7 separate regions of the Homo sapiens genome follow, and regions 1, 2, 3, 4, 5 and 6 are each linked to region 7. The links come from fine-mapping of genetic effects on gene expression. A gene starts in region 7. Each other region holds a variant in brackets. All regions are shown on one strand. Distances are between the middles of the regions.

The links. PIP is the estimated chance that this variant, and not a neighbour inherited with it, causes the effect.
Region 1: its variant is the best candidate, but not a certain one, in a credible set for the expression of TRIOBP in whole blood (TOPMed, PIP 0.56).
Region 2: its variant is the best candidate, but not a certain one, in a credible set for the expression of TRIOBP in whole blood (INTERVAL, PIP 0.84).
Region 3: its variant is the best candidate, but not a certain one, in a credible set for the expression of TRIOBP in gastroesophageal junction (GTEx, PIP 0.89).
Region 4: its variant is the best candidate, but not a certain one, in a credible set for the expression of TRIOBP in whole blood (INTERVAL, PIP 0.67).
Region 5: its variant is the best candidate, but not a certain one, in a credible set for the expression of TRIOBP in NK cells (Schmiedel 2018, PIP 0.56).
Region 6: its variant is the best candidate, but not a certain one, in a credible set for the expression of TRIOBP in whole blood (Lepik 2017, PIP 0.59).

The regions. Positions count from the first base shown.
Region 1 is chr22:37,742,515-37,746,586 of GRCh38, reverse strand. All of the region lies in intron 11 of TRIOBP (TRIO and F-actin binding protein), which reads right to left. All of the region lies in intron 1 of LOC124905115, which reads left to right. LOC102724378 (a long non-coding RNA gene) reads left to right here and starts at 643. Exons shown (of 3, transcript NR_160697.1): 1 at 643-968; 2 at 1,047-1,116; 3 at 1,750-2,277. RefSeq lists silencers at 1-143, 484-783. The variant T/C (reference allele first, on the strand shown) is at 2,201.
Region 2 is chr22:38,082,917-38,086,978 of GRCh38, reverse strand. It overlaps SLC16A8 (solute carrier family 16 member 8), which reads left to right and starts at 2,795. Exons shown (of 6, transcript NM_013356.3): 1 at 2,795-2,991; 2 at 3,618-3,937. BAIAP2L2 (BAR/IMD domain containing adaptor protein 2 like 2) reads left to right here. Exons shown (of 14, transcript NM_025045.6): 12 at 530-737; 13 at 1,247-1,293; 14 at 1,604-2,079. The coding sequence ends at 1,679. RefSeq lists enhancers at 190-969, 2,530-3,311. The variant C/T (reference allele first, on the strand shown) is at 1,682.
Region 3 is chr22:36,922,181-36,926,180 of GRCh38, reverse strand. CSF2RB (colony stimulating factor 2 receptor subunit beta) reads right to left here. Exons shown (of 14, transcript NM_000395.3): 2 at 3,898-4,000; 3 at 2,814-2,937; 4 at 4-194. The coding sequence starts at 3,973. It overlaps LOC105373023 (a long non-coding RNA gene), which reads left to right and starts at 238. Exons shown (of 2, transcript XR_938230.2): 1 at 238-431. RefSeq lists enhancers at 1-677, 3,323-3,893. The variant G/A (reference allele first, on the strand shown) is at 1,723.
Region 4 is chr22:37,821,026-37,825,097 of GRCh38, reverse strand. It overlaps GALR3 (galanin receptor 3), which reads right to left and starts at 1,716. Exons shown (of 2, transcript NM_003614.2): 1 at 1,333-1,716; 2 at 1-375. The coding sequence starts at 1,691. The variant G/C (reference allele first, on the strand shown) is at 1,535.
Region 5 is chr22:38,075,407-38,079,478 of GRCh38, reverse strand. PICK1 (protein interacting with PRKCA 1) reads right to left here. Exons shown (of 13, transcript NM_012407.4): 13 at 3,778-4,072. It overlaps SLC16A8 (solute carrier family 16 member 8), which reads left to right. Exons shown (of 6, transcript NM_013356.3): 6 at 775-1,342. The coding sequence ends at 1,091. LOC105373027 (a long non-coding RNA gene) reads right to left here and starts at 838. Exons shown (of 3, transcript XR_938249.3): 1 at 746-838; 2 at 532-625. RefSeq lists an enhancer at 4,018-4,072. The variant G/A (reference allele first, on the strand shown) is at 2,088.
Region 6 is chr22:37,958,389-37,962,460 of GRCh38, reverse strand. It overlaps POLR2F (RNA polymerase II, I and III subunit F), which reads right to left. Exons shown (of 5, transcript NM_021974.5): 3 at 2,985-3,115. Among named protein-coding and RNA genes, the nearest start is that of POLR2F, 6.7 kb to the right of the region's middle. The variant T/C (reference allele first, on the strand shown) is at 2,443.
Region 7 is chr22:37,694,607-37,698,678 of GRCh38, reverse strand. TRIOBP (TRIO and F-actin binding protein) reads right to left here and starts at 1,631. Exons shown (of 24, transcript NM_001039141.3): 1 at 1,590-1,631; 2 at 983-1,091.

The DNA.
Region 1 (4,072 bases), 48 kb before region 7:
GGTCTGGCCGAAAGCGCTTCGGAGGTGGCCCCGTCTTCCGGCCCAGCCCTCCTCTCGCCTTCGGGAAATGAGGAGGGGGCTGCCCCGGAGGGGAGAGGCTGGGCTCTGCCTCGGGTCGTCGCCCTTCTCCCGGCCTCGGGCGCGGGCGGCTGACTGGGGCACTCACCGTCATGGCGGCGCCCCAGGGCGGCGGGAGCAGGAGGCAGGAACGTGGACGCGGCTCTCGGGCCGGGCTCCGCGGCGCGGGAACCCCGCCGCCGCCGCCGCCGCCGCCCCTCTCGGCCGCCCGCCGCCGCGCCTCCGGCCCTTCCTTTCCCCGACGCTGCCCCGGCCCCTTCCATCCGCCCATAAAACTTTTTTTTTTTTTTTTTCAAACTTCCTGGGAGGACCCGAGCGGGCCAATGGGTGGCGGGGAAGCCGAGACAAACAGCGGCGGGGGCCGCGGCGGGCCAATGGAAGCGCGAGACGGGCCGGGGGCGGGACCTGCCGCAACGGGACGGGCGCGCTAGGGCGGCGGGGCGGCGGGACGGCGGGACGGCGGGGTGGGCGGATGGGGCCGCAGGGAAGGGAGGGCGGTGGCGGCCGGAGGGCGGGCGGGCCCGGGCCGCGGGCGCGCTGGGAGGAAGGAAGGGCCCAGGGTGCAGGTGACTCCGGCAATGGCGCGGGGGCGGAGGATGCGGGCGGCCGGGCGTGGGCACGACTCGCCCAGGCTGCGCTTCCCGACCCGGCCCCGGAGCGATGGGTCCGCTAGGGCTCGGCGCCGTGATTTGGCGGGGACCGGGGCAAAGCACCCAGTACTAACGACTCAGCGGGTCCCACTCGCCAAGAGTCGATTTTCGTCCTCACCACAGACTTGGGAGGGAGGTCTTATTTTGCTAATGAGAAAACGGAGGCTCAGAGGGGTGAGCCGATTTGCCCGAGGTCACACAGGAAGAGGCGGAATTCCTAGCGAGTAAGCTGGACACAAAGTGAGTTCTTGGATGGCAGGGTCTCTCCCAAATGCCCACTCCTCACAAATGGGTCTTTTTTGGTTTGGGGTTTTTCAGGTGTGGGCGTGCACCCGTTGCTCAGGTTCCCAGAACGCTGGGCCGTTTGTTAGATGCTCTTTTCCTGCAGGTGAGTAGGGACCGTGGTGGAATTGGTTGCTAAATGCACTAGGAAGTTCGTGTGGCACGGGGATTCCAGCCTAGTGTTACCTTAAGCAAGGCACCTCTCGGTGCTCAATTTCACTCTCTGTAAAATGGGGTAATGCTGTTACCTCATGAGGTTGCTGGAAGGATTAAGTGTTAATTCAAGTAAGGCACCTAGGACAACCTCTTTATCCCTCATTAGCTATCCTTAGGCAAGGAGGCAGGGAAGCTTGGAATAATTGGCATTTCAATTATTCTGTCATCTTGATTTGGGGTTCAAAAATTATTGCCCTTGCCGGGCGCGGTGGTTCAGGTCTGTAATCCCAACACTTTGGGAGGCTGAGGTGGGTGGATCATTGAGATCAGGAGTTCAAGAGCAGACTGGCCAACATGGTGAAACCCCGTCTCTACTAAAAATACAAAAATTAGCCGGGCGTGGTGTCAGGCGCCTGTAATCCAGCTATGTAAAAGGCTGAGGCAGGAGAATCGCTTGAACCCGGGAGGCAGAGGTTACAGTGAGCAGAGATTGTGCCACTGCACTCCACCTTGGGAGACGGAGCGAGACTCCCTCTCAAAAAAAAAAATTATTGCTTTTATAATTACTGTTCCCATTTTGCAGATAAAGAAATGGAGGCCCAGGGAGCTGAAGTTCTTTCCCAGCATTTGCTGCCAGGAGTCTCTCCACCATGAGGAATGAGGCCAAGGTTAAGTCCATCTAACTCTAGAAACTGGCCTTCTGGCACCCCGGGCTGAGTTTTCTCACCCTACCCTTGCACCTCACTCAGGCAGTCAGTCCTTGGGAGAGTGAATGAACACGCAGGAGACCTCACCTACCACCAGGGTCCTGGTCCAGTGCCCTGGGCACCTAACAGCACCAGCCTCCTCCAGGCTTTTCTGGCCCCTGCGACTCCTCCTAGTACCCGCAACACAGTGACCAGACCACTTCCCTGCTCAAAGTTCTTCCACACATCACCAATGCTGACAGATCAGTGCTACATTCCTCTTCTAGGCAGTCAGGAACCATCACAACCTGGCTCCTGCCTGTCATCCTGGCCTTCCAGATTCTCATT[T/C]GACAGGCTGGAGAGACACATACTTTGGTCAATTTTGCAAAATACAATAAGTAAATAAAGAGATGCACAGCACTGGAGGCTGGGCGCGGTGGTTTATGCCTGTAATCTCAGCACTTTAGGAGGCCGAGGCGGGTGGATCACCTGAGGTCAGGAGTTCGAGACTAGGCTGGCCAACATGGTGAAACCCCGTCTCTGGTAAAAATACAAAAAATTAGCCGGGCGTGGTGGCACATGGCTGTGATCCCAGCTACTTGGGAGGCTGAGGCAGGAGAATCGCTGGAACCTGGGAGGCGTAGGTTGCGGTGAGTGAAGATCACACCACTGCATTCCACTCCAGCCTAGGCAACAGAGCGAGACTCCATCTCAGAAAAAAAAAAAAAAAAAAAGATACACAGCACTGGACTACTAGGAATTCCCAGGATAAGACAGGTCCTTCTACCCCCTGATGGTTCTCTGCTGTGCCTGGAACACTTCTCTTCCTGTCTTCTGTACCCCAGCACACACACACACACACACCCAGCACACACTCACACACACCCAGCACACACACACACACACACACACACACACACACACACACACACATTCTCTCTCTCTTTCTCCCCTTCCCCCTCCCAATGCTTGTTGGCCTGGAAAATTTCTTCCTTGAAGTCTCAGACCAAAGGAAGCCAAAGTGTCCCCAGCAGACTTAGGAACTGCTGGCCCAGTGCTCCCTACATCTGTACCTTTCCCCACTAAAGTGGTGACCACACTGTTCTCATCAGTTACATGTCAGTGTCCTTACCTAACTGGGCTCCAGTGGCCAGGGCTGGAATGTTTTTTGTCTACATCTTGGAAACCAGCCTAGGGCCTAAGCCCACAGCACATCCTCCGTAAGCACGGCTCGAATGAATGAATGCACCAATGAAGAAACCACAACTCATCCTGGCAGGTCAGAGACAGCACAGCCTCAGGGACCCAGGGGTGAGTTATTAAACTGGCAAAGACCAGAGCTACCAAACTTCGAGGTTATCCAGTCTCAAACCGTTACTCTACTGAGAATAATAAGGTAAGGCTCAGAGAAGGGCACACAAGTTAGGTGCCAAGCCAGAACTCGACTCCAGGCTTTCTGGCTCTTGGCCTTGGGCTAATTTCACTGCTTCAGCCCAAGAGAAGTTTAAATCTGCTCTGTGTAACTGGGAGGCCCTGCTGGCAGTTCCATCCCTAGCTCTTCATTTCCCTCACTCCCACATGAGAGAACCACTGTAGCCAACCTCACCAAGCCTCGGTTGCCGCATCTTTCTAATGGGGAAAATCTGTGGGGACTCCCAGAGCTGCAGGAGGGCTCAGAGAGATCAGGATGTGAAGGCAGTGGTGTAGGGGGCGTGTTGGAAGCACTGGGCTCTGAGGTCAGCCAGAGCAGGGTCTGAATCTCAGTTCTGCCCCTTGCTCCCTGTGTGACCTGGAGCAAGTGACCCTCCCTCTCTGAGCTTCACTTCATCATCTGTAAAATGGACAGTAGGCGTCTAACTGCACCTGGGAGTGTGGATCAAATGCAATTAGGTGGCGCCATGCAGTGAACACAGAGCTGGGCATGTAGTAGGCATACAATAAGTGCTGGTTAGCCAGCATCATTACCCCAGAGTGCTTTCCCTGCTTCGCTCCTCCTTCGCTCTACCAAGGACTTACCTGCCCCCTCCTGCCAGACGTGCTGTGTGTTGGTGACCTTTAGTTAGACAAGGTAATTCCTGCCCATGGCTTAAAGGTACCACACTACTCAGATAACCATGCTTGCCTGCTCACCCTCGGTGCCTTAACCACAAAGAGCAGCGAAAGGAAATTCTGGGCTCAGCTGGGTGACTCACGCCTGTAATCCCAGCACTTTGGGAGGCC
Region 2 (4,062 bases), 390 kb before region 7:
TGTCACCCAGGCTGGAGTGCAGTGGCGCCATCTTGGCTCACTGCAACCTCTGCCTCCTGCATTCAAGCGATTCTCCTGCCTGAGCCTCCTGAGTAGCTGGGATTACAGGCACACACCACCACACCTGGCTACTTTTTGTATTTTTAGTAGAGACAGGGTTTCACTATGTTGGCCAGGCTGGTCTTGAACTCCTGACCTCAGGTGATCCACCCACCTCGGTCTCCCAAAGTGCTGGGATTACAGGCGTGAGTCACTGCACCCAGGTGGCAAGGTGCAGTCTTGAGTGGGCCCAGCCCCCTTCAGCCCCTGGAGAACCACCGGCCCTGAGCCCCTCTCTCTGCCCTGAAGGTCACTGCGTCCATCCCTCTGCCTCCTCTCAGGACCTCCCTCCGGTCAACAGTCTCCTTTCATGCAGGTGCGGGGAGGAAGCTGTCGGATGCCTCCTGCCTAAGGTGCCCCAGCTACTGGCAGGACAAGGGATTGGACAGGCCCCAACCCCTTTCCTTCCCCCTCCTTTCTCTGGACTTAGGTCCTACCCACTCCGGGGCAGCCACAGCCTCGATGACCTCCTGGACCGGCCGGGCAACTCCATAGCACCCTCGGAGTACTGGGATGGCCAGTCCCGCTCCCGCACCCCAAGCCGGGTGCCAAGCCGTGCCCCCAGCCCTGCACCTCCACCCTTGCCCAGCAGCCGCCGCAGCAGCATGGGCAGCACAGCAGTTGCCACTGACGTCAAGGTGAGCCCTTGCCCGCCCTCTCTTGGGGCCTCCAGCGGGCAGGGAGGCAGGAGAGCAGGGATCCCGAGGCTCTGTCACCGGCTGTCTGGCAGGGGACCCGCCTACCTGGCCTCACTCAGTCTGTTCCTCAGTGCAGGGAGGGGTGGTGTGGGGCTGAGTCTGGGCTGAAGGGGAAGACCAGGGTCCCAGGACAGGGTGTGGCCTGGGGCTAGCCAGTAGGACGGGGCTGGGGGAGGCCAGGGAGGGCATCTCCGATGGAGCCACCCCGGTCTTATCCTGGGGGCGTGGTTAGTCCTTGGAGGTGGTGCTCTGGCCTAGGGGTTTCTCACTTCTGCAACCCACAGAATTCTGGGCTTCAGAACGTCAGGGTCTCATTTTCCAGGAGCCTGGCATGGCAGGGGCTCTCTGGCCCAGTCCTCTGCCCTTGGGCATGGGGAGAGGGAGGGGAGGAGCAAGGGATTGCTTGCCCCTCTCCCCACCAAACCAGCCCTTCCCCACCCCCACTGCAGAAACTGATGTCCTCAGAGCAGTACCCACCACAGGAGCTCTTCCCGAGGTGAGTCCTCACATGGGGGCCCAAACAGTGAGGAGGGTGGCAGGTGCGGCGGCACACACTTGTAGTCCCAGCTACTAGGGAGACTGGGGCAGGAGGATCTCTTGATTCCAACAGTTCAACATCAGCTTGAGCAACACTGTGAGACCCTATCTCTTAAAAGAAAAAAAAAGATGAAGCGGGGCAAGGAGTGGATGGAGACCAAATAGGGGCAGGAGGCAGGACCCAGCTCAGTTGCCCAGCTGCCTTCCTGAGCCATGGCCAGGTGGGGATCATCTGCCCTTCTCACCCCATTCTCTCTCTCCTCCTACAGGGGCACAAATCCTTTTGCCACTGTCAAGCTTCGTCCCACCATCACCAATGACCGCTCAGCACCCCTCATCCGCTGAGG[C/T]GGGGTCCGAGGTCGTACCCCACAGTGCACCTGCCCAGGGGCTGTTCAGAGCTGGCAATGGCAGCGACAGCAGCAACAGCAGCAGATCCAAGAAGCGGGTCCCTGAGACGGGGGGTGGCTGCCCTCCCCAGACCACCCCGGCAGCCTGAGCAGCTCCAAAGCACTGGCTTGGGGTCCGAGACCTTCAAAGTAAAGCAGGCGGAATGGGGGGACAGGACAATTTCTCCCCCTCCAGGGGCTCCAGGACTCTCCCTGGGGGGCCCACCTCTTGCCCCCTAACCTCTTTCCCCCTTTTCTGCCCCCGTGGGGAGGAGCCCCTTGTACCTGCTCCGTGCCCAACACATGCCCTCTCTGTACATCTTTTGTAAATGATGAGAAATAAAGGAAGTGGACGCAAAGTGATGCGGCAGCAGGACTGGTGGTGTCTTATTTGGGGGACAGGGCAGGGGGTGAGGGATAGAGACTCCCCCATTGGAGAATGGGGTCTAGGGGGTACTGAGGTCCTGGCTGTTCCCCGGGAAGCCATCTCACTCCCAGCCCCTTGTTTGTTTGTTTGGAGAACTCTTTAGGGCTGCCCCAAAGCCCTCGCGCTGCAGCCCCCATCTCCACCTGCTCTCATTTCGACCTGTGGGTTTCCTAGGAAGTAGCGGCTGCTCGGGTCAGGGGAGAGGTGGCAGTGGCCAAGGGCTGGGACCACCAGCAAGCTGCCCTCAGGCGGCCTGGACACAGCACCCTTTGTTTTGGCCCCTCCCCCCCCCACATTCCCAGGCACAGGCGTGGATTAGCTTCATTCTAGAGAAAGCTGCCAGCCCCTCCTGGAATGTGGCCTGGGGCGGGGGGTTGGGGCGGGGGCAGATGAGGCACTGAGGTGATTAGAACCGTTGGGGTCTCTTCAGGGCAGGGCTGTGCCCCCAGCACCAGACTAGGACCCCCTGGGCAAGGTCTCTGTGTCTACCACCCCAGGCTCCAGGAGGCACAGGGATTCTCTTCCTCCCTCCTGGACTGGCTTGGGACAGGGAGCCCACCGCCGAGGCCCAGCCTGGCCTGGGGCTCCCAGTCTCTTCTCCCCTCCTGGACAAAAGCCTCTTAGCAGGGGTGAGGTGTGGTGGGGGCACACACTCTAAGCTCCAGGCCTGGGGCAGGGAGCGTCAGGCGGGAGTCGGCCAGAGGCTCAGCCCAGGCTGGTGGGAAGCTGGGGTGTCTGGCAGCCCCCATCCGGGTAAGCTTCACCGGGAGCTGCGGCGGCGGCCCCTCCCTGCAGGCCTCAGGAGATGTGAGGCTGGACCCCCAAACCCACGAGGCAGGCTCAGGTGAGTGTGATGTGAGGGCTGCCTGGGATCACCCTCCTGTCTCCACCTTCAAGTGGCTGCCCCTGTGACAAGAGGACAACAGGCAGGAAAAGCCACAACCTGGTCCTAGTGGAGGAGGGGCAGAGTCCCGGATACCCTGGGGGTGGTGGCACTGCCCAGTGCCAGGAGGGACACTCCAGGCAGGAGGGCAGGAGGCTATCCCCAGCCCCCGGCTCCTGGTGCACCTGTCTCTGAGTACACCCTCCTCATCTGTTATGGGGGCGCTTGTAACTGCTGTGAGGGCCCCGGGTGGAGCCCCAGGAATGAGACAGGCTTTGGAGCCATTCTTTTCATATAGAGGGTTTGAGGTTTGGAGGGCAGAAGGCCACTCTCTCAGTGCTGCTAAGGTTCCTACCTGTCTGGCAGAAGCCAGAGACCTGACTCCTCTCCCGCAAGATTCCCAGCTGGCCTCGGGGTGATCAATCACCCATCTTACATCGGAGGAAAGGGAGGTTGGGAGAGGGGAGGCGACCGGCCCAAGTCAGGGAGGGAATCCATGGCTGAGCTGAGATGCATGGGAACTCAGCTCCCCTGGCTGATATCTGTTGAAAGTGGCTTTTGTCCCCTTAATGTTCTAATGACAATAGTCATTTGTGATCACTGAGAAACATTAGGAACATGGCGGAAGGCTAAAGAGGAAAATCACGCACAGCGGCCCTTTGCAGCCGGCATCTGCCCCTCTGCTGTTTGTTCTGTTGTCCCGAGACCCTCACGCGTACGGGGCGACTTTGGTGCTGGACGCCCACCTCCAGGCACATACCTGCTCCACTTCCCGACGCCTTCCACCTGAGGCCCTGAGGGGCCAGCAGTTGTCCTTCAGAGGGAGCCTGCAGAGGTGCAGAGTCAGGTGGGACCCGTCGTCCTCCCCTCGTCCTTCAGCGCCCTTTGCAGGAGAAGGAGACTTGGGGTGAGAGTCCTACCTCCGTTTCCCCTTTTGGTTCCCAGACCTGAGCCACCCTCACGTGGGTAGCCCTGTGCCTCAGTTTCCCCATGCTTCGTCTCCATCCCCCTCCTTCTCTAGGCTGCTGGCCC
Region 3 (4,000 bases), 770 kb after region 7:
CACCATGCTGGGTCAGAGTGACGGTGAGCCGGGTGCCCAGAGGCCTGTCTGGTTGGAATGAGAAGTAGTCAACGTCAGTGACGACAAAACTCTGGCAGGGAATGACACATCTCCTGGGCACGCAGCGGGGATGGGGGCAGGCTGACCAGGGCATGTCATCACTGAGGTCACAGGACACTGGCTCCAGGAGGTCCCTGTTGGGAGAGGACACGGCTTAGCCCAGGGTGTATGGGTATCACTGACTCACGAAAGGTTCCTCGAGTGCTCACCACATGCCTGGCTCTGTTCAGAATCAGGGGCCAGCAGTGATAAAACACACAAAAATCCTGCCCACGGAGCTGCCATCCTGGGAGAAGGGGACCCGCATGGAACAAAGTGTGTAGCGTGTGCAGTGGAGAGAACTTCATGTGGAAAAATAAAGCAAGAAGCAGGTGAGGAGGGAGGAAGGGCTGGGCCAGGGAGGCAATTTGAAATATGGGACAAGCAGGCTTCTCTAAGGAGGTGACCTGGGGGCAGAATGTTAAAGGCATTGAGGGAGGGACTGTGCAAATTGTGAGGATTTCAGGAAATGGGAACAGCACGTGCAAAGGCCCTGGGACAGGCAGAGTTTGGTGTGCTGCGTGGCTTGGCCTAAAACCAGTGCGCAGGGAGTAGAGCGTGTGATAGGGAGGTCTAGGAGACCCATCCATCTACATGATGGGATTGGATCTCACTGCGAGTGAGTGGGAAACAGTCATGAGCAGAGGTGTTGTAGATTTTGATAAATGCTTTGAAAGGATTCCTGAGGGTCCTCGGTTGCGAATAGACTGAGGTGGGAATGTGGCAATGTTGGAAGCAGGGAGCCCAGTTACGAGGCTTCTGGAATATTCAGGTGACAGGAAGTGGCGTGCAACAGGGTGGTCAGGCTGGCGTGGGTGAGATTCATGTTCTGCTTGAGATAAGGTTGGCAGCATTTGCTGGTGGAGGGATGTAGCAGTCAGGAAGGAATGGTGACAAAAGAGACTTAAAAACAAAACAAAATCCTCCCTGTTGTTTAGTTTGAGCCACTAGGAGCTCCCATTTAGAAAGGGAGATGGGGAAGACAGAGGCAGCAGCGCAGCTCGGGTGAGAGCGGGACTTTGGTTGAGGACGTTTGGAGTCGGAGACACCTGTTGTCTAAGTGACAGGTGGAGAGGCCAGTACGCCTGGAGGGCTGGAGCTTAGGGGAATTGTGGGCTTGAGGTCACCTTTGGGAGATGCCCCAGGGGCCTGAGGGGGTCTCTGCAGAGTGGATACAGCAGAGAGGAGGTCCATGGACTGGGCCTGGGTGTCTTGCCATCAGGAGGCAGCAGACAAGGAGAAAGAGGAGGATGGGCAGGGCCCCGGGGGCACTGGGTGAGCTGTGGGCAGAGTCAGGTGCAAGAGAAACTGCAGGGAGGCCGCGGTGGTCCTCCTTGTCAGGGGCTGCCCCTGGTCAAGTAGGAAGAAGGCGGAGGCCCAACCATGAGATCCTGCTCCCTGGGACATTTGCTGACTTGGACCAGAGCAGTTTGGGTGGCCTGGTGGGGGCAGCATCCTAGGGGAGTGGGCCCAGGAGGAAATGGCTGGAAAGACACTGGACGTGGTGAATGTGGACAACTCTTTAGGGAATGCTGCTGTCAAAGGAAGCAGAGAAAGAGGGGCCGCAGGGTTGCCAGGTCAGGAGATGCCCAGGCGCTGCACTCCTGTGGGCATCTGAGAGGG[G/A]GTTGGGGCAGGTTTGCAAGGCAATTGGGAAAGATCCTGGGAGAGGGCATGGTGGGTGGCACAGGGCAGAGTGGGGACTTGGGGGCCGTGATGTTCCTGAGCAACAGGACCAGACAGCATCGTGTCTCAGGCCTCAGACAGGAGCCCTGGTCCAGGCCCAGGCCCCGGCGGTGGGCAAAGGGGGTGGGGAGTGTGAGTGTGGGGTGGGTGGGGAGCTTCTCCCTGGTCCCCTGTTGTGTCAGAGCAGCAGGAAGCAGGTCACAGGGAGGGGCAGGATGGTCTTTGAGGAGAATGGAGAAGGTCCGACAGAGACGCCCTGGAGAACTGAAGGCGGTGGAGGGGTGGGGGTGGCAGAGCCGGCCCCGCCCCCCAACGCTGGGGTGACCTCCAATGGGTTGTCATCTGCCTCTCTGGTTCCAGCTATTTAATTACTTAATTTATGGCTGATTTAGACCCTGGCCAACACCCCAGAGCGATTCTGGTCCCCTTCCCTTGTGGCACGTGCCCAGGAGAGCTTGGGTGGGAGAGGTGGCAGCCCACATACGGAGGGGGGGCCTGGGAGAGCGCGGAGCCCCCTCCCAGACACGTCCACACAGCTTGCTCTGCCACTGTCTACCCCGTGGCCAGGGCTGGCACCTCACCTCCAGGGCCTCAGTTTTCCCATCTGTGAACTCCCAGGCTAGCGCCATCTCTCCTTGGTCTACTCTGGACAGGCAGGCAGTGGCACAGCTGGGGCTTCGTGGCCTGGCCCTGCCCACCTCACAGTGAGGAGGAACTAAGATAGGTCATGTGGGGCAATTGTGTTAAATTGTGATGAAACAAGAGAAGATTTTCACCATTGCCACCACCACCATTGTCACCAACATCAGTGTAGGAGGCACTCCGCAGAAACCCCAGGTCAGACGGCAGCACCCGGCCTCGCAGGTGCCTGGCGGAGCAGGAGCTCTTGCAGGGCCTCCCTCCTCCTCTGTCCTCTGTCCACTCCCACCCCGAGGCTGACCTGACAGGTCCCTCTCTACACTGTCGCCCCATGCCAGGCACAGGGGACGTCGTAGCCCCTGCCCGTGGCCCCTGCCCCCAGCATCACTCACTCATTCACCCGGCGAATGAGGGTCACGTTGACGAGCCGCTGGGCATCCTGGGTGTCTGCCCACCTGCAGGTGATGTGGCTGGTGTAGTCGTTGTAGCAGCGCAGGGTCTGCAGCGGGATGGTTTCTGACAAGAGGGGTAGAAGGGGGTCACCTCTCTTTCCTGCAGGGACCCTTGTCACCATCACCCCCAGCTGCTTTGGGATGTCCCGCTCTGGGGAGGGGTCTCCCAGGTCCCTGCAGAGGCACCAGGTGGCCAGGCACATGTACATGTGTTCATGTCTGCCGGGGTGGGCTCCTGGTTGCGGACCCTCCTCTCCTGGCAGAAGCAAGACATTCTGTTGGTTCTCAGCATGGTTTCTGGGCCTCCGCAGTGTGCTGTTCCTGGGCACGGTCCCCTCCCCCCACCCCAGGACAGGGACATGCATCAAGCACAGGCCTGGCCCCTGGACCGACTGTGCAGCCTGGGAGGGGGCACACACTCAGCCCTGGGATGCAGCGTGGCAGAGTTCTACCCTGCAACCTCCCACCTCCTCTCTAGTCCCCGTCCTCAGGAGCCTGGTATTTGTTAAGGGGACTGTGGTCCCAGCATTATCACAGAAGCCAGGTCTCTGGGAGCCCTTGGGAGGGGCCATTTCACCTCAAGAGCCCAGGAGCATCCCAGTGCGGGCTTCAGGCACAAGGAGGGTGCTAGCGGCTGAAGCAGGGAGAGAACCCCAGCCAAGGCCCTGCAGGAGCAAAGTCCCGGAGGTGGGAACCACTGAGGCACAGAGAGTGTCTGCTGGGGAAGGAGGGGCAGGGAAACGGCCAGAGCAGCCATCCTGGAGCCTAGGGGCCGGGAGTGCCGCCCTGAGAAATGTGGGCAAGGAAGCCAGACACGCTCAGCTGGACTTTCCAAGACAGGATGAGCAGGAATGTGCAGGAGGAGGGAAGCGGGGGAGGCCCAGGGAAGGCCAGGGGGAGAGACAGAGGGAGGGGAGCAGGAGGAGGGCTGGCGGGCAGGATCCTGAGGATACGCTGCGGCCCTCCCCCAGGGTGCAGCAGTGAGGACAGGGACAGGGAAGTGGGTGGGAGCCACGGGACTCACCTTCTGCCCCTGCCAGGCTGCGCTCCCAGCACAGGGCCAGCAGGGCCATGGAGAGCAGCCCCTGGGCCAGCACCATCTCCCTGGTCAGCTCTGGACAGGCAGG
Region 4 (4,072 bases), 130 kb before region 7:
GCGTAGAGCGCGGCCACCGCCAGCATGGCGCGCCCCGCGCGGCCCGTCGCCCTCCGCCGCGCCTCGGCCGCCGCCGCGCCCGCGGGACCCACGGCGGCCCACAGGAAGCGCAGCGTGCGCCCGTAGGCCAGGCTCACCACAGCCACGGGCAGCAGGTAGCCGGCAGCGAAGGTGGCCACGTCCAGGGCGCGGCGGCGCGCGTCCTCCCAGGCGGGCACGCAGAGCTCCAGCGCGCCGTAGCGCACGGTGCCGTAGTAGCTGAGGTAGGGCGCCGAGAAGAGCGCCGCCAGCAGCCACACCAGCCCCACTGCGGCGCGGGCGTTACGCGGCGTGCGCAGGGCGCGCGAGCGCAGCGGGTGCCGCACGGCCAGGTACCTGCGGAGGGCGCCTGGTCAGCGGGGCGGGCAGGTGCCCTCCCGCAGGGGCCCGCGCCACGTCCCGCGCCCGGGCCCTGCGGCCCAGTGCGCCTCCTGTGAACCGTGGGGGACGTGGCGGGGATTAAGGGTGTGAACGCGCAAGGTGCTTAGGCCCTTGCACCTAGCAAGGGCCCGATCCCGGTGACTTGTTATTTCTAGGATTATTTTATGGATGCGTCAGATGAGGTCCAGAGAGAAGTGACTTGCCCAGGGTCATCAGCTGGAGTGAGCCTGGATTTGACCCCAAGTTTCAAGCTGTGGAAGCAGATGTGTGCACAGCTTGGCCAGGTGTGGGCAGTTAGAAAATAGCTGGGCTGGGCGCGGTGGCTCACGCCTGTAATCCCAGCACTTGGGAGGCCGAGGCGGGCGGATCACTTGAGGTCAGGGGTTCGAGACCAGCCTGTCCAACATGGCAAAACCCCGTTTCTACTAAAAATACAAAAAATTAGCCAGGTGTGGTGGCCTGTAATCCCAGCTACTCAGGAGGCTGTGGCAGGAGAATCGCTGGAACCCAGGAGGCAGAGGTTGCAGTGAGCCAAGATCCAAAAAAAAAAAACAACAAAACAAAACAAAACAAAAAAACTGATGAACGCATTCGTGAGCTTCTTTTGCGATTCATTTCGCGCTTACAGAGCACTTACTATGTGCCAGACCCTGTGCTGCCACTTGAGACTCAGAGGCGTCCTCTGGAAGTTCACAGTGGAGGAGGGGAAGGGCAGGACAGTCCCCTCAAGCACGCCCTGCAGGTGCCCAGAGGCTGCTTGCGAGGGGTCAGGGAGCTTTTGTTTCCTCCCACCCACCTCCCTTTCTGGTCCCCCACTCTCTCCTTCCTAAGGCCAGTGAGGATCTGTTCAGGACTCCTCCCCCAACCCCCGCCCCCACAGCCCTGCCCAGCCAGGCCCCAGGCACAGCGCACCTGTCCACGGAGACAGCAGCCAGCGTAAAGCTGCTGGCGTACATGGTGAGGTAGATGAGCAGGTGCACGGCCTTGCAGACGAGGGCCCCAAAGAGCCAGGCATCCAGCGTGTAGATGGTGGCCTGGAAGGGCACGCAGCACAGGATGAAGCAGAGGTCAGCCACCGCCAGGTTGAGGATGAACAGGTCCGTGGTGCTGCCAG[G/C]CTCCTGCCAGGCACTCGGGCCAGGCTGCAGGAGCACTGCCAGCACCAGCCCATTGCCCACTGTGCCCAGCAGGAAGATTAGGGCAAAGACCACAGGCACTGCCACGGCCCCCACACTCCCTGGGCTGTCCAGTGAAATGTTCTGGGCATCAGCCATCTCCCCATCAGACGGGCACCTGGGAAGAGAAGCTGGAATCCTCAGGCAAGAGCCCCCAGTTCTGGTTGCTTGACCCCGGGATCTAACTCCCCCGACCTGGGTCTGGCCAGGTGTTCTGGGCTGGAAGCTCGTGGGAGATGGAGGAGGGGAGAGCAGAGCCAAAGTCATCGCTGAGTGTCACTGTGTGAGCAAGCTCGTGGTGTTCAAGGGGTGAGAGTTCCTCAGTTTCCTAAGGAACACCCCTGGAGTCCTGCCTGGAGGACTACCTAGGTATTTGAGGGACACTTTCAACCCACGAGGCTGGGGAAGGCACAAGCGAAGTAGGATGAAGATATGGCGATGGGGGGAGGGGCCAAACCCAGAAACTGGTATGTTTTCCTTCTCAATGGGGATCTGAAGCTCAGGGGAGACCCTGGGACATGGGTTTAGGGCTTTCTCTGGCTACAAGCTGTAGCCTTAGCAAAACACGGGTAACATCCCTGAGTCATTGGAGGGTCCAGTATAGTGAGATCATCACAATGGCAAAACTGGGAAGACCGTGTAGGTCACTGCTTCCTCTCTGCACATAGGGAAATTGAGGCCCAGAGAGGGGACATGGGAGGATAATATCACACTCGAAATGGCAGCTCTGGGGCTGTTGCCACCCTGGTATCCTGCCTCTTAAGCTAGAGTGCTCATCTGAGAGCTTGTAACAGGTGGTGCCTCTGACAACTTGTGTGTGTGCACACCGCACCCATGCTCACCCCCATCCCACTCTACAGCCCATGTCTCCTACTGCCTGTGGATCTCCTTGCAGGCTTGAGACCACTGGGGTGGTGGGACAAAGTAGGGGAAAGGGGGGTCAGGCAGGGAGTAGGGAAGAAAGGCAATGTCTGCCCCCATCCCAGCACCCAGCATGCAGTAGGTCCCCAAAGCCCAGGATGGGCAACACCCACCTCCGCCTTGGGCAGTGGGCTTGATCCTGGGTGGAATGGCCGGGCTGGGTGGGCCTCCTGATTCAGCGGCTGCCCCTTGGTGCCTCCCTGCAGGTACTGGTCTGCCTTCTACTTCTCCCCCTTTGCCTTTAAGGCCCCTCCTCTCCTCTGCCCCCTCTGCTGAGCCGGAGTTGGGCACTCCCTCTGGAGTAGCCACTGGCCACTTCCTCCTCAGTCCCTGATTTCCCCCAGGTGGCAGGCTCTTCTGCCTGGCTCTTCTCTGCCTCTCTGCGTTGCTGCTGCCTTTTCCTCTCTCTGCAGCCAGTAACCCATTGATCTCGCTCTCTGTGATTTGCTTTGTAGTTAACCCCTCTGTGCCCAGGGCCCAGCCAGTCTCTGGCACTCCCACCTCCTGTGGCCCAGCCTGATGTGACTCCATCCCCTATCCCTGCACCTTCTTGCTCCAATCCATGTTTAGAAAAGGTTCCTAGGCCGGGCATGGTGGCTCACGTCTGTAATCCCAGCACTTTGGGAGGCTGAGGCAGGCAGATCACTTGAGGCCAGGAATTCGAGACCAGCCTGGCCAATGTGGCGAAACCTTGTCTCTACTAAAAATACAAAAATTAACTGAGCGTCGTGGCGGGCGCCTGTAATCCCAGCTACTCTGGAGGCTGAGGCAGGAGAATCGCTTGAACCTGGGAGGTGGAGGTTGCAATGAGCCGAGATGACGCCACTGCACTCCAGCCCAGGTGATGGAGTGAGACATTGTCTCAAAAAAAAAAAAAAAAAAAAAAAGAAGAGGCTGGGCGCGGTGGCTCATGCCTGTAATCCCAGCACTTTGGGAGGCCAAGACAGGTGGATCATGAGGTCAGGAGTTCAAGACCAGCCTGGCCAAGATGATGAAACCCCATGTCTACTAAAAATACAAAAATTAGCTGGGTGTGGTGGCGGGCACCTGTAATCCCAGCTGCTCGGGAGGCTGAGGCAGAGAATTGCTTGAAGCCAGGGGTTGGAGGTTGCAGTGAGCCAAGATCGTGCCACTGCACTCCAGCCTGGGCGACAGAGCGAGATTCCGTCTCAAAAAAAAAAAAAAAAAAAAAAAAAAAAAGGATTCCTAGTCTTGACTGGGGTTTCCTGGAGTGGGAAACCAGGACTTGAGTCTCCTTTCGGCAGACTCCAGAGACTCCTCCCTCAGGCTCTGCAAATCCTGAGATCCTTCTCCGGAAGCTCTTTCCAGAGCCTTAGTCCAGCTGGAGCCCAGATGGTTTAGGTACCTGTCCAAAAAGTCTGGCTTTACCTGATAGCAACGGGGAACTACTAAGATTCTACAGCAGAGACATGACCCGCACATTTTCTTTCTTTCTTTCTTTTTTTCCCCCCACATTATCTTTTGTAAAAAGTTTGTTATGGGCCAGGCGCAGCGGCTCACACCTGTAATCCTAGCACTTTGGGAGGCTGAGGTGGGCG
Region 5 (4,072 bases), 380 kb before region 7:
CTACATTCCAGCCTGGGCCAATGGAGTGAGACCCTGTCTCAAAAGAATAAGAAAATTCCTGAAGCCAGGTGCAGTGGTTCACACCTGTAATCCCAGCACTTTGAGAGGCCAAGTCGGGAGGATCCCTTGAGCTCAGGAGTTCAGGACCAGCCTGGGCAACACAGCAAGACCCCATCCCTAAAAAAAACATAATAAAAGAGAGACTTTCCTGAGTTTGAAAGTAGTATCTACAAGGGATAGAAGCCTTGAGAAATAGAGAAGGAAATGAGTTACTGGCCCACAAGCCCCACCTGTGCCGATGATGGCTTGGTCTGGGATGCTCATGGGCCTCCTGGGACAGAGGGGTGGGAGGACTAAGCCAAGCCCCTGAGGACCAGGGCATTTACATGGCAACAGCAAGAGGTGGAGGCCCCCAGGAGGGCAGAGCTAAGCCCAGGGCCCCCTCCCCGCTCCCACCCCAGATACCCCACTGCCAAGCAAGTCACAGGACACTTGTGGGGCTTGAATCAGAGGGTGGAGGGGACGCCTCACCAGAAGCCACATATCACTTAAGCAATTGAGGTCCAGGGACAGCAAGTGACATTTTTAAGGTTTCAAATGGCAGAATCCACATGAGGTTTTACATCTGTAAAACAGGAATAAAGAGTGGGCATGTGTGTGTCACCCAGGAGCCTCACCAAGTCAGTGGCACCACCCTTGACCTGAGAGTGCAGGAGAGTGAGGGGAGGACCCCACAGGACCTTACCTCTCCCTCCTCTTCCTCCTCCTCCCCAGGCCGCCTGGTGGATGTGTTGAAGAACTATGAGATCATCTTCTACCTGGCCGGCTCTGAGGTGGCCCTGGCTGGGGTCTTCATGGCTGTCGCCACCAACTGCTGCCTGCGTTGTGCTAAAGCTGCCCCGTCAGGCCCAGGCACTGAGGGCGGAGCCAGTGACACTGAGGACGCTGAGGCTGAAGGGGACTCTGAGCCCCTGCCTGTTGTTGCAGAGGAACCCGGCAACCTGGAGGCCCTGGAGGTGCTCAGCGCCCGGGGCGAGCCCACAGAACCAGAAATAGAGGCGAGGCCGAGGCTGGCTGCCGAGTCTGTATAACTCAGGGTGCTCTGGGTGGGGTGGCCCAGTGACTTGGGAACACAGCTTCTTGTCTCAGAGAGCCTGGTACGCTGGGAGGCTGGTCTGGGGTGGTCACTCCCGGGGTCCACGTCTGGGCTCCAGTTGATCCCCTGGGTGTCTGGGAACTGCCTCCCTCATCTGTGCCCCAAGTTCCGCCAGGCCCTGCCCCATCGCCAGTGAAGCTGCTATGGAGCAACAGGAAACTGGTGATAAAGCTCAGCTGAACGACAGAAGGTTCTATTCCTCCGCCCAGGCTCCGGCTGCCACCTGAGTTGGGGGTCAGGGTGGTGGGAGGGAGTCTGGGAGGTCTCTCTCCAGGCCCCCTAAGCAGGCTTCTAGGTGGGCAGTGTTGGGAGGAAGCGTCAGAGATGGATGAAGAGACCCATCGTTCCCAGGTGTAGAGACACAAGGGGCTGGGCGGGCACAGGGCTCAGGGGCACAGGGCTGGGTGGGCACAGTGCCTGGCTCCTGCCCAGCCCCACTGCTCAGAGCTGTCTGCTGAAGGCCCCCTCGCTGGCATCTGCCTTTTCCCGTGGAGGGAACGAGGGGTTGGCAGCAACTAGGGTTCAAGGTTGGGGTCTGCCTGCAGGCGGGGGGCCCGAGCGGTCTGAGAAGACTCACAGTTCCCAGGGTCAGGGTCGGTTTGAATCCCAGCCCCGCTGACTTCCTTGCTCACTGGAGGCTGAGCATACGACTCCGTCCCCTGGGGTCCTGGGGAGGGTGGGACCAGGCGCTCAGTAACACCATGGGCCCTGCTGCCTTCCACGAGGTGGCCATGTCCCCTCACCTTCCCAGAGGGCATCTCTCCCACTAGAGGATAAACTTGGGTGTCCAGGGCCAGGGGCTTTTGCTGTGGACACTGTGCTGGCAGCCAGGTCATCTGCTGATCCCAGCACCTGCCTTCTCCCCACGGAGCGTCCCACGATCTCCCTCACACTTTGACATCTGACCTCCTGCACTTGGATCCAGGTGCAC[G/A]AATCTGGCAAGACGCGATGTATTCCCTCTATGCATTTATCCTCCTCCCATACATCACACCCCTCCTTTCTTTGCCTCCCTCCGAATCATGAGCGTGGTGAACAGGCCCCTGCAGAGGAAGCCGCCTTCCCTCCGCAAACTCCCCTCACCTTCCAGCCCGGCCCATAGTGACCCCTCCCCACTGGTCCCTGCTGGCCCTCATTTTCCATCTAGGCCCCAGGAAGGTCTGGGGAGCCCCACAGATGCCTGGCCGGCTTCTACTTATATGGCCTGTGGCTTCCCCTGCACCACTAGAGCAGTGACTGCGTTTGACTTTATTATTATTATTTTTTATTTATTTTTTTGAAATGGAGTCTCGCTCTGTTGCCCAGGCTGGAGTGCAGTGGCACAATCTCGGCTCACTGCAAGCTCTGCCTCCCAGGTTCACACCATTCTCCTGTCTCAGCCTCCCCAGCAGCTGGGACTACAGGCCCCCGCCACCACGCCTGGCTAATTTTTTGTATTTTTAGTGGAGACGAGGTTTCACCGTGTTAGCCAGGATGGTCTCGATCTCCTGACCTCGTGATCCGCCCGCCTTGGCCTCCCAAAGTGCTGGGATTACAGGCGTGAGCCACCGCTCCCGGCCCGTCTGACTTTATTTAAGATTTAAGAGTGCTTGCTCTGTGCCAAGCCCTGTTCTAAGCCCTCTCCAGATGTTCATTTAATCTCCTAACAAGCCAATAAGGTAGGTGCCACACTTCAGATAGGGAAATTGAGGCCCAGGGAGGTCAGGAACGAACCCAGGCTGTCAGTTCCAGCCTGTGCTCTTGGCCTCCACTCTGGCTGCCCCCTTCAGGGAGGCAGTGTGGTCTGTCTGATGGCTCTGCGGGGACCCAGGTGGGCTCCTGGTGACAGCCAGCCCCTCCTCCATGTCCCACCCCTGCCAAGCCTCCCATTTGGGTTTCTGCCCAGCAATGCATGCTCAAAGCTGATGCAGAAACCCTTTTTCCATCCTGGACTCAGCCCACCTCGCACACCCTGTTGCCCCCTCGCATTCTCAGGATGGCCATATTCATCGTCCAAACAGGAACACGTTAGAGTGACAAGGGCCACTATGACTGATTACACCAGGCCGAGGCTGGCCAGGAGAAGCAGGAGAAGTGGCCACCCTGTTTCTGCCACTCTGCAGACACTCCCCATGGCCTCTCCCCACGCCCCTCTTCCCACAGCCCCCGAGCACCTCTCCCCACACGCCTTTCCCCACCACCCGGGCAGCACAGGCGCGCCTGGAGTCAGCACTTACCCCTCACCACCCTCCCCTACTTGGGGGCTCAGTCGCCCTGGCTCCATGTCTGCCCTTCTCTCCCCCAGAGGTTTATTTCCTGTCGGAAGCACAGAAAGGTCACAGATTGGGGGCGGGGGAAGGGGGCGGGGGGTGAGATACAAAAGGTTCCACAAAGCAGAAAGCTTTGGAGGCAGGTGGCAAAGTCAGGCCTTCAGGACAGATCTGAGTTAAAACCCACTGTGTCCCCACACAGGGCGTGGCCTTGGGCAAGATCTTTCTCTGAGCCTCAAATCACCAGCTGTGAGGGGACCACAGTGCTAGCCCTGCAACACTTCAGTGAGGCATAAATGGTGCATAGCAAGGGCGCTGTCAATAGACGGTGGAGGGGAGGGGCAGACAAGGAGGGTCTGAAGCCACTGCGACCACTGCGCCATCCAGGTTTGTGTTTATTCGATACAGGCCCAGAACCCAGCCCTCCTTCAGAGAAGTGGCCGAGCTGGGGGAACAGAATAAATAAAGGCCGCCGAGGTGTGATGGGGACTGGACGGGCCGGTCTGGGGCGAGGCAAGGGTGCCCAGGAGGCATTGACCCCAACCTCAGCTGTCCACGGCTGGCCCCACTCCCAGCAGGCTCCGGGGGCAGTGTGAGCGCCCACAAGGAGCAGGGCTCGGACTCCTGCCACCTCCAAGTCCTTTCTTTTCCTTCCTGCCCTCCCTCTCCT
Region 6 (4,072 bases), 260 kb before region 7:
GCTACTGAGGAATGGGGGAGAACAATGTTGTCCACCCATAAAACCCTTTATTGAAGTAGACATGATGGTCATCTTTACCCCTACAGGACTAGAGGAGGCAACAGCCCAGTGCTGCTTGAACACTAAGGAGGAGAATGTACAGACAGCATTTGCTGCCCCTGTAAGCACACAGAGTCCACAAATCTGGCCCCAGCTTTCCTTTGTTTTTTTTTTGTTTGTTTGTTTGTTTGTTTTGAGATGGAGTCTCTGTCACTCAGGCTGGTGTGCAGTAGTGCGATCACAGTTCACTGCAGCCTCAACCTCCTGGCCTTAGGTGATCCTCCCACGTCAGCCTCCCGAGTAGCTGGGACTACAGGCGCACGCCACCACACTCAGCTAATTTTTGTATTTTTTGTAGAGATGGGGTTTCACCATGTTGCCCAGGCTGATTTTGAACTTCTGGGCTCAAGCAATCCACCTGCCTCGTCCTCCCAAAGTGCTGGGATTACAGTTGTGAGCCACGGCACCCAGCTGCTTTTCTTTCTAGGCTAATTTCCATTATTCCCTACTTGAACTACCCCCGCTCCTCCAGATACCCACCATTTCCCACATCAGTCTATAGGGAGTTTGGGGTAGGGGCTCCTGTTCTCAGTCTCATGCTTCCCCACAGTACCATTAGAGTACCCCGCTCTGTCCCCTCACCTACTCCTCAAAAGAAAGGAGGAGGAACTATTCTGACAGGTGAGCCTGGGGGGAAAAAAAGCAGGCATCTGTGGCCCAGCCTCTTTGAAAGTCCCTGCTTTCTCAAAGCCATCTGTTGGCAGAGGGTGCTTCCAGTCTGTTCTCCAGTCTGCCCCAAACCTTAGCAGGCATCTGAAGGCCTGCACTGCCTATGGCTAACACATCTGCACTCATTGGACACTCGCATCTCCACCTGTCTACTCTATCTCCTGAATCTTTATTCTCCCAAATGTGGGAGAGGAGGGAAGTTTGCTGATTTTCAAATCCCCAAAACCCCACCACTGCTCTGTGCTTTCATCTCTCTAGCGTGCTTTCAAGCTGGAGGGCCCCCCACTCTGCTGGACTGGCCATAGTCTACCTCACATCAAGAACCACCTTAAAGCCAGGAATGGTTGCTCATGCTTGTAATCCCAGCTCCAGCACTTTGGGAGCTGAGGCAGGAGAATCACTTGAGGCTGAGTTCAAGACCAGCCTGGGCAACATAGCAAGACCCCTATCTCCACAAAAAATACAAAGCCAGGCATAGTGGCACATACCTGTAATCCCAGCTTGAAGCTACTTGGGAGGTTGAGACAAGAAAATTGCTTGAGCCGGCCAGGCGCGGTGGCTCATGCCTGTACTCCCAGTACTTTGGGAGGCCAAGGCAGGTGGATCACAAGGTCAGGAGATGGAGACCATCCTGACTAACACCGTGAAACCCCATCTCCACTAAAAATACAAAAAAATTAGCCAGGCGTTGTGGTGGGCACCTGTAGTCCCAGCTGCTTGGGAGGCTGAGGCAGGAGAATGGCGTGATCCTAGGAGGTGGATATTGCAGTGAACCGAGATCACGCCACGGCACTCCAGCTTGGGCGACAGAGCGAGACTCCATCTCAAAAAAAAAAAAAAAGAAAAAAGAAAATTGCACCGGCCGGGCACGGTGGCTCACGCCTGTAATCCCAACATTTTGGGAGGCCAAGGCGGGTGGATCACAAGGTCAGGAGTTTGAGACCAGCCTGGCCAATATGGTGAAACCCCGTCTCTACTAAAAATACAAAAATAGCCGGGCACGGTGGCTCACGTCTGTAATCCCAACACTTTGGGAGGCCGAGGCGGGCGGATCATGAGGTCAGGAGAAAGAGACCAACCACCCTGGCTAACATGGTGAAACCCCGTCTCCACTAAAAATACAAAAAGCTAGCTGGGCACGGTGGCGGGCGCCTGTAGTCCCAGCTACTCTGGAGGCTGAGGCAGGAGAAGGGCGTGAAGCCAGGAGGCAGCACTTGCAGTGAGCGGAGAACGCGCCACTGCACTCCAGGCTGGGTGATAGAGCGAGACTCCATCTCAAAGAAAAAAGAAAAAATACAAAAATTAGCCAGGTGTGGTGGTGGACGCCTGTAGTCCCAGCTACGCGGGAGGCTGAGGCAGGACAATCGCTTGAACCCGGGAGGCAGGGGTTGTACTGAGCTGAGATTGGGCCAGTGCACTCCAGCATGGGAGACAGAGCAAGACTCTGTCAAAAAAAAAAAAAAAGAAAAGAAAATTGCTTGAGCCCAGGAGTTTGAGGCTGCAATGGGCCATGATCAGGCCCCTGTGCTCCAGCATGGGCAACAGATTGAGATCTTGACTCGGAAAATAAAACAACAAAGAACCACCATGGCCGGGCGCGGTGGCTCTCACCTGCAATCCCAACACTTTGGGAGGCAGAGGCAGGTGGATCACTTGAAGCTAGGCGTTCGAGAC[T/C]AGCCTAGGCAACATGGCGAGACCCCGTCTCTATTAAAAACACAACAATTAGTTAGGCATGGTGGCACATGCCTGTAATTCCAGCTACCTGGGAGGCTGAGGCACGAGAATCACTTGAACCTGGGAGGCAGAGGTTGCAGTGAGCTGAGATTGTGCCATTGCACTCCAGCCTAGGTGACTCAGCGAGACTCTATCTCAAAAAAAAAAAAAAAAAACTACACTGGTACACATTGGCTCTGAATTCACCTTTTTTGCTGCACTAATCTGACACGCAACCATCTAGTTCTGTTTTTTTTTTTTTATCGTTTTTCTCCCATATTGTTACTTGACTTCTCAGATGTTCATGTCCTAGTTCTCCTATTAGATCACAAGCTCCCTGAGGGCAGGGGACTAGCTCAATGCCTGGTACGCAGGGACGGCACCACTTTTGGAATGTGAGAGCAGAGAGTCTGTTTTCAGGTGCCAGGCTGGGAAAGATCAGCGGTACAAGAGCTTACTGTGGCCTGACAGATGGAGAAGACAGTGAAGGGGCAATCACTCACGCAATCTGGAGCGCTCGGGTGCCCAGCACGCGGGCTCGCTCGTACTTGGTCATGTATGGTGTGGTGATTCGCTTCTGGTTGGCCTGCGGTCGCTCCCCAGAGGGGAGGATCTCGACATTCTCCTGGCCTTCCTGGACACCAAGACAAAAAAGAGGGAAAGACTCAGGTGGCACTTTTGGGTTACAGGGAGAGTGATAATGACAACAATCACAATTCTCGCTACAGCCACCGTTAATGCTTACTGCATGCCAGGGGACCACATAACTGCTTCCTAACAACTCATGTAATCCTTACAATAACCTTATGAGGCAGGGATTACAGTTCTCATTTCAGAGGCTTGGAAAGTCAGCTAACCTGACCAAGCCTCAGACCTGGTAATGGAGGTCTGAGATTCCAGAGCTAACTGCCTCATCCAGAAGAGAGCAGAGGGCCTGGAGATGGGGTGGTATCAGAATGTTGGTCCTGTAAAAGAGGTCCTGGCACAAAAAAATTACCCTAAGCAGGAAGCTAGGAATAGTCTTCCCATCTTTCAGATAGGGGAGCTGAGCCAATGGGCCAAGTGGCTAGAAAAGTCAAGGTGAAGGCAGGAATATTTAACAATTACTTACTAAGCATTTGTCCTGAGCCAGATATTGTTAACAGATGCTGAGAAAGAAAGCTAGGAATTTCTGCTCTCAATTAATGGTCTAAAGGGGAGACAAGAGTAAACAGAGCAGGTGCTATGAAGGGTGCAACAGAGTTCCCGAGGAGGTGGGGACACCTCACTCACACTGGGGGTTAGGAAAACTCCAGGGATGAGGCTTGAGCTCACCTAGAAGGATGAGCAGGAGCTGTCAAACCAATGAGGAAGGAGGCAACATGCAAAGGCATAGAGGAGAAAGAGGTTTGGACAACTAGTTGTGGACAATAATTAGAACAAAAGGTGCGTAGAGGATTGTAGGCAAGAGAATAAATTCTGTGGTATATAAAGAATTAAGTAAACAGGCCAGGCGCAGTGGCTCACACCTGTAATCCCAGCACTTTGGGAGGCCGAGGCGGGCGGATCACAAGGCAGGAGATCGAGACCATCCTGGCTAACACGGTGAACC
Region 7 (4,072 bases):
TTTTTATTTTGTAAAAATGGGCTCTTGGCCAGGTGCGGTGGCTCACGCCTATAATCCCAGCACTTTGGGAGGCTGAGGCAGGCAGATCACTTGAGGCCAGGAATTCAAGACCAGCCTGCCCAACATGATGAAACCCTGTCTCTACTAAAACTATAAAAATTAGCTGGGCGTGGTGCGCATGCCTGTAATCCCAGCTACTCAAGAGGCTGGGGCAAGAGAATTGCTTGAACCCAGGAGGTGGAGGTTGCAGTGGAGCTAAGATCGCCCCGCTGCACTCCAGCCTGGGCAACAGTGTGTCTCAAAAAAAAAAAAAAAAAAAAAAAAGGCTCTTGCAGTGTTACCCAGGCTGGTTTTGAACTCCTGAACTCCTGACCTCAAGTAATCCTCCTCCTTCCCTCAAAGTGCTGGGATTACAGGTGTGAAGCATCATACCCTTCTGAAACCCTGGTGTCTTTCTTTCTTTTTTTTTTTTTTTTTTTGAGACAGAATCTCGGTCTATCACCCAGGCTGGAGTGCAGTGGCGCGATCTCGGCTCACTGCAACCTCTGCCTCCCGGATTCAAGCAATTCTCCTGCCGCAGCCTCCCAAATAGCTGGGATTACAGGCATGTGCCACCATGCCCGGATAATTTTTTTGTATTTTTGGTAGAGACGAGGTTTCACCATATGGGCCAGGCTGGTCTCGAACTCCTGACCTTGTGATCCACCCACCTCGACCTCCCAAAGTGCTGGGATTACAGGCTTGAGCCACCGCGCCCGGCCGCCCTGGTATCTTACTTGTGCAAGGGTTCTCCTTTCTGGGTGCCCCTAAGGCCACCAACATCCATGCCCTGGAGTGGAGCTGGGTCAGGAGAATCACTTAAAGATGGCCTCCCCACTCACACAGAGCCCCAGGGGGAGGGTGGGGGGTGGGAGGAACCCAACATCCCAAAACACCTGCAGCTTTTGGTGCCCCCAGGTCACCTGCCCACATCCATCCTCACCTGCTGTGTTCCAGGGGATCAGGCTTTTGTGGCCAATCTTGGTGGAGAGCTGAGGAATTTCACCTCCTCCCCTGGGACAGCCAGGGCCAAGGCTCCTCCATCATCAGACCTGGAGAAGGGAATGCGGTGGGGGCGACAGCAAGGCACGGTGGGGAGAGGGCTACCCACTGGTCCTTCCGTGGCCCCAGGGTCTCTGATCCTCCCCGGGCGGTCGTCCTCCCGACTCCTGGTGGTGGAAGAGGGGCGCATCGGCCCCGCCCGTCCTGGGCGTTTCTCTCCTGGTCTGGCCACATAAAGGAGCGTCGCCTAGCAGGAGAACGCCGCTCATTTTCCTGGGGGTGGGTAGGGGGCTCTACTCCACGTGCCCCTCGCTGCTCCCGTTTCCTCCCCTACCCACAACCAATAGGCAGAATCCTTCTCTAAAATGCACTTGAGATGTGGATATAATAATCAAAACCTTAAGCAGCTACACATGCCCCACCCAGAGAATGGACCCGGGACCCTCTCCATCCAGGCATTCAGCCAGTTCCTCCCCGGATCCCTCGACCCCTACCCCTCCTGTAGGCCTCCCCCTACCAGCTCCTCTTTTCTGAGGCCCAGTGCTAACCTTGGCTGGGTTTCCACGCACAGGGGCTGCCGGGGTGGGAGTGCCAGGGTCATGGCCTCTTTATTTTAACAATGAATCAGAGCGATGCTCGGGAGGTGGAAGGCCACGCCCCTGCCACGCTCGCATAGGCTCTCTCTGGGTGCCTCATTTACATGAAGACTGTGGGACTCTGTGGGACTGGACAAACCAGAACAAGGGGCGGGGCGGAGGCAGGCGGGGCGCAGATACCTCTGAGAGCGGGACTCACTGCACGTTTAGCCTGGGCCGCCTGCAGCCCTTGCCCGCTGGGGGTCCCCAGGGAGCCCTGGAGAGGGCTGGCACTGGCGGATCTGGCTCCTTCTGACCTCTTTCCCGTTGGTTCATTCTGCCGACAGTCCGCTGGGCTGGCTTTAGCACAGACCTTGGACTAGAGTCTTAACCTCTCTGTCATGACAGTTTTCTTACCGAGGAGGCGGAGGTTGCAGTGAGCTGAGATAGCGCCATTGCACTCCAGCCTGGGCGACAGAGCAAAACTCTTGTATAAAAAAGAAAAAAAAAATAGCCTGGCGTGGTGGTGTGCGCCTGTAGTCTCAGCTACTCAGAAGGCTGAGGCAGGAGCATCGCTTGAACCCGGGAGGCGGAGGTTGCAGTGAGCCGAAATCACACCACTGCACTCCAGCCTGGGCAACAGAGTGAGACTCCGCCTTAAAAAAAAAAAAAAAAAAAAAAAAAAAAACTTGTTTCCCATCTTTTTTCCTTTTGGTTGATATTTGCCAATTGTGGCGACTGGGATGGGAGGAGGAGGGCGAAATTCACTGGACAGGGAGGAAGGTTGCAGCAGGAGTCCAGGAGAGATGGGTGCAGTGATGAGACAGGGAAGGTAAACTAGATTCAGACACTTGTAGGCAGGTGAGCTTGGCACTAGGGTCACAGAAATCTTAGATTATTTTGAGAGTTGTTGGGGATCACCTGGGGGTTGGATTCAGACAGGATTGGCTGAGAACCTACATTGACACAAGCTTGTGCCCAGAGCAGAAACAGAAATGACTAAGATACAATTTCTCACTCAGAAAGCTCTGGTCTGGTTCGAGGGACAAACCAGGATTCACTGTGTTCAGTGTTTAAAAGAAGGAAACACCTACTATCATGGGAGGTCAGGTGGAGAAAGGAGGAAGGCAGAGAAGGCTTCTCCTTGGAGGTGGCTCAAAGGTGAGGAGATCGAGAAAGGCTGAGAACAGCCTGCAAACCTCTGAAGGTGGCTGGGGGAGGCCAATGCTAGCTCAGAACAAGGCGGGCATTTCTAGCAGTCCTCACAAGGGAGCAGGCAGTGAGCTCTCCAAGCTCAGGAGGAACTGAAGCCCCTCACCAGAGCCACCTGCAAGCCAAAGGAAGGTCAATGGCTCAAACCTGGGGGCGTCAAGGTCGTCAGCACCACTGGGACCTTGGAAAGGATGGACGCTGAGGCTTATATGACCCCAGAACACCTGCCCCCACAGTTCCTCACCTCACCCCCCTGGGGAGAGCTCAGGCCACCCCAAAACAGATCGTACCAAAAGAAGTTTTATTTTAATGGGCTGAGCCCAGCCTCAGGTAACTATGGCCACAGCTCATCATGTACTAGCACAGGGCCTGACCTTGGTGTGAAAACCGAGGATGGATAAATGTCTGCTGTGACTTTAGCTCCACACAGATGGATCCCCTCATGACAGCCCTTTATATATTTGGCTTCTGTGAAATAATCTGCTGATTATACCCCAACACCCATTCTCTCATTTTTTTTTTTTTTTTTTTTTTGAGACAGATTCTCGCTCAGTTGCCCAGGCTGGAGTGCAGTGGCGCGATCTCTGCTCACTGCAAGCTCCGCCTCCCGGGTTCATGCCATTCTCCTGCCTCAGCCTCCCAAGTAGCTGGGACTACAGGTGCCCGCCACCACGCCCAACTAATTTTTTGTATTTTTAGTAGAGACGGGGTTTCACCGTGTTAGCCAGGACGGTCTTGATCTCCTGACCTCGTGATCTGCCCGCCTTGGCCTCCCAAAATGCTGGGATTACAGGTGTGAGCCACTGCGCCTGGCCTCATTCTCTCATTTTTGAGATGGAGTCTTGCTGTTGTCACCCAGGCCGGAGTGCAGTGGTGTGATCTTGGCCCACTGCAACCTCTGGCCCTCGGGTTCAAGTGATTCTCATCTCAGCCTCCCAAGTAGCTGGGATTACAGGCACCTGCCATCACACCTGGCTAATTTTTATATTTTTAGTAGAGATCGGGTTTCGCCACGTTGGCCAGGCTGGTCTCAAACACCTGATCTCAGGTGATTGGCCCACCTCAGCCTCCCAAAGTGCTGGGATTACAGGCACGAACCACTGTGCCAGGCCCCATTCTCTCCTTTCTAACACAATCCCCAATTCTCATCTGAGCACTTGGTTTCCCAGAATAGAAGAGTTCCTGGCCGGGCGGGGTGGCTCATGCCTGTAATCCCAGCACTTTGGGAGGCCACGGTGGGTGGA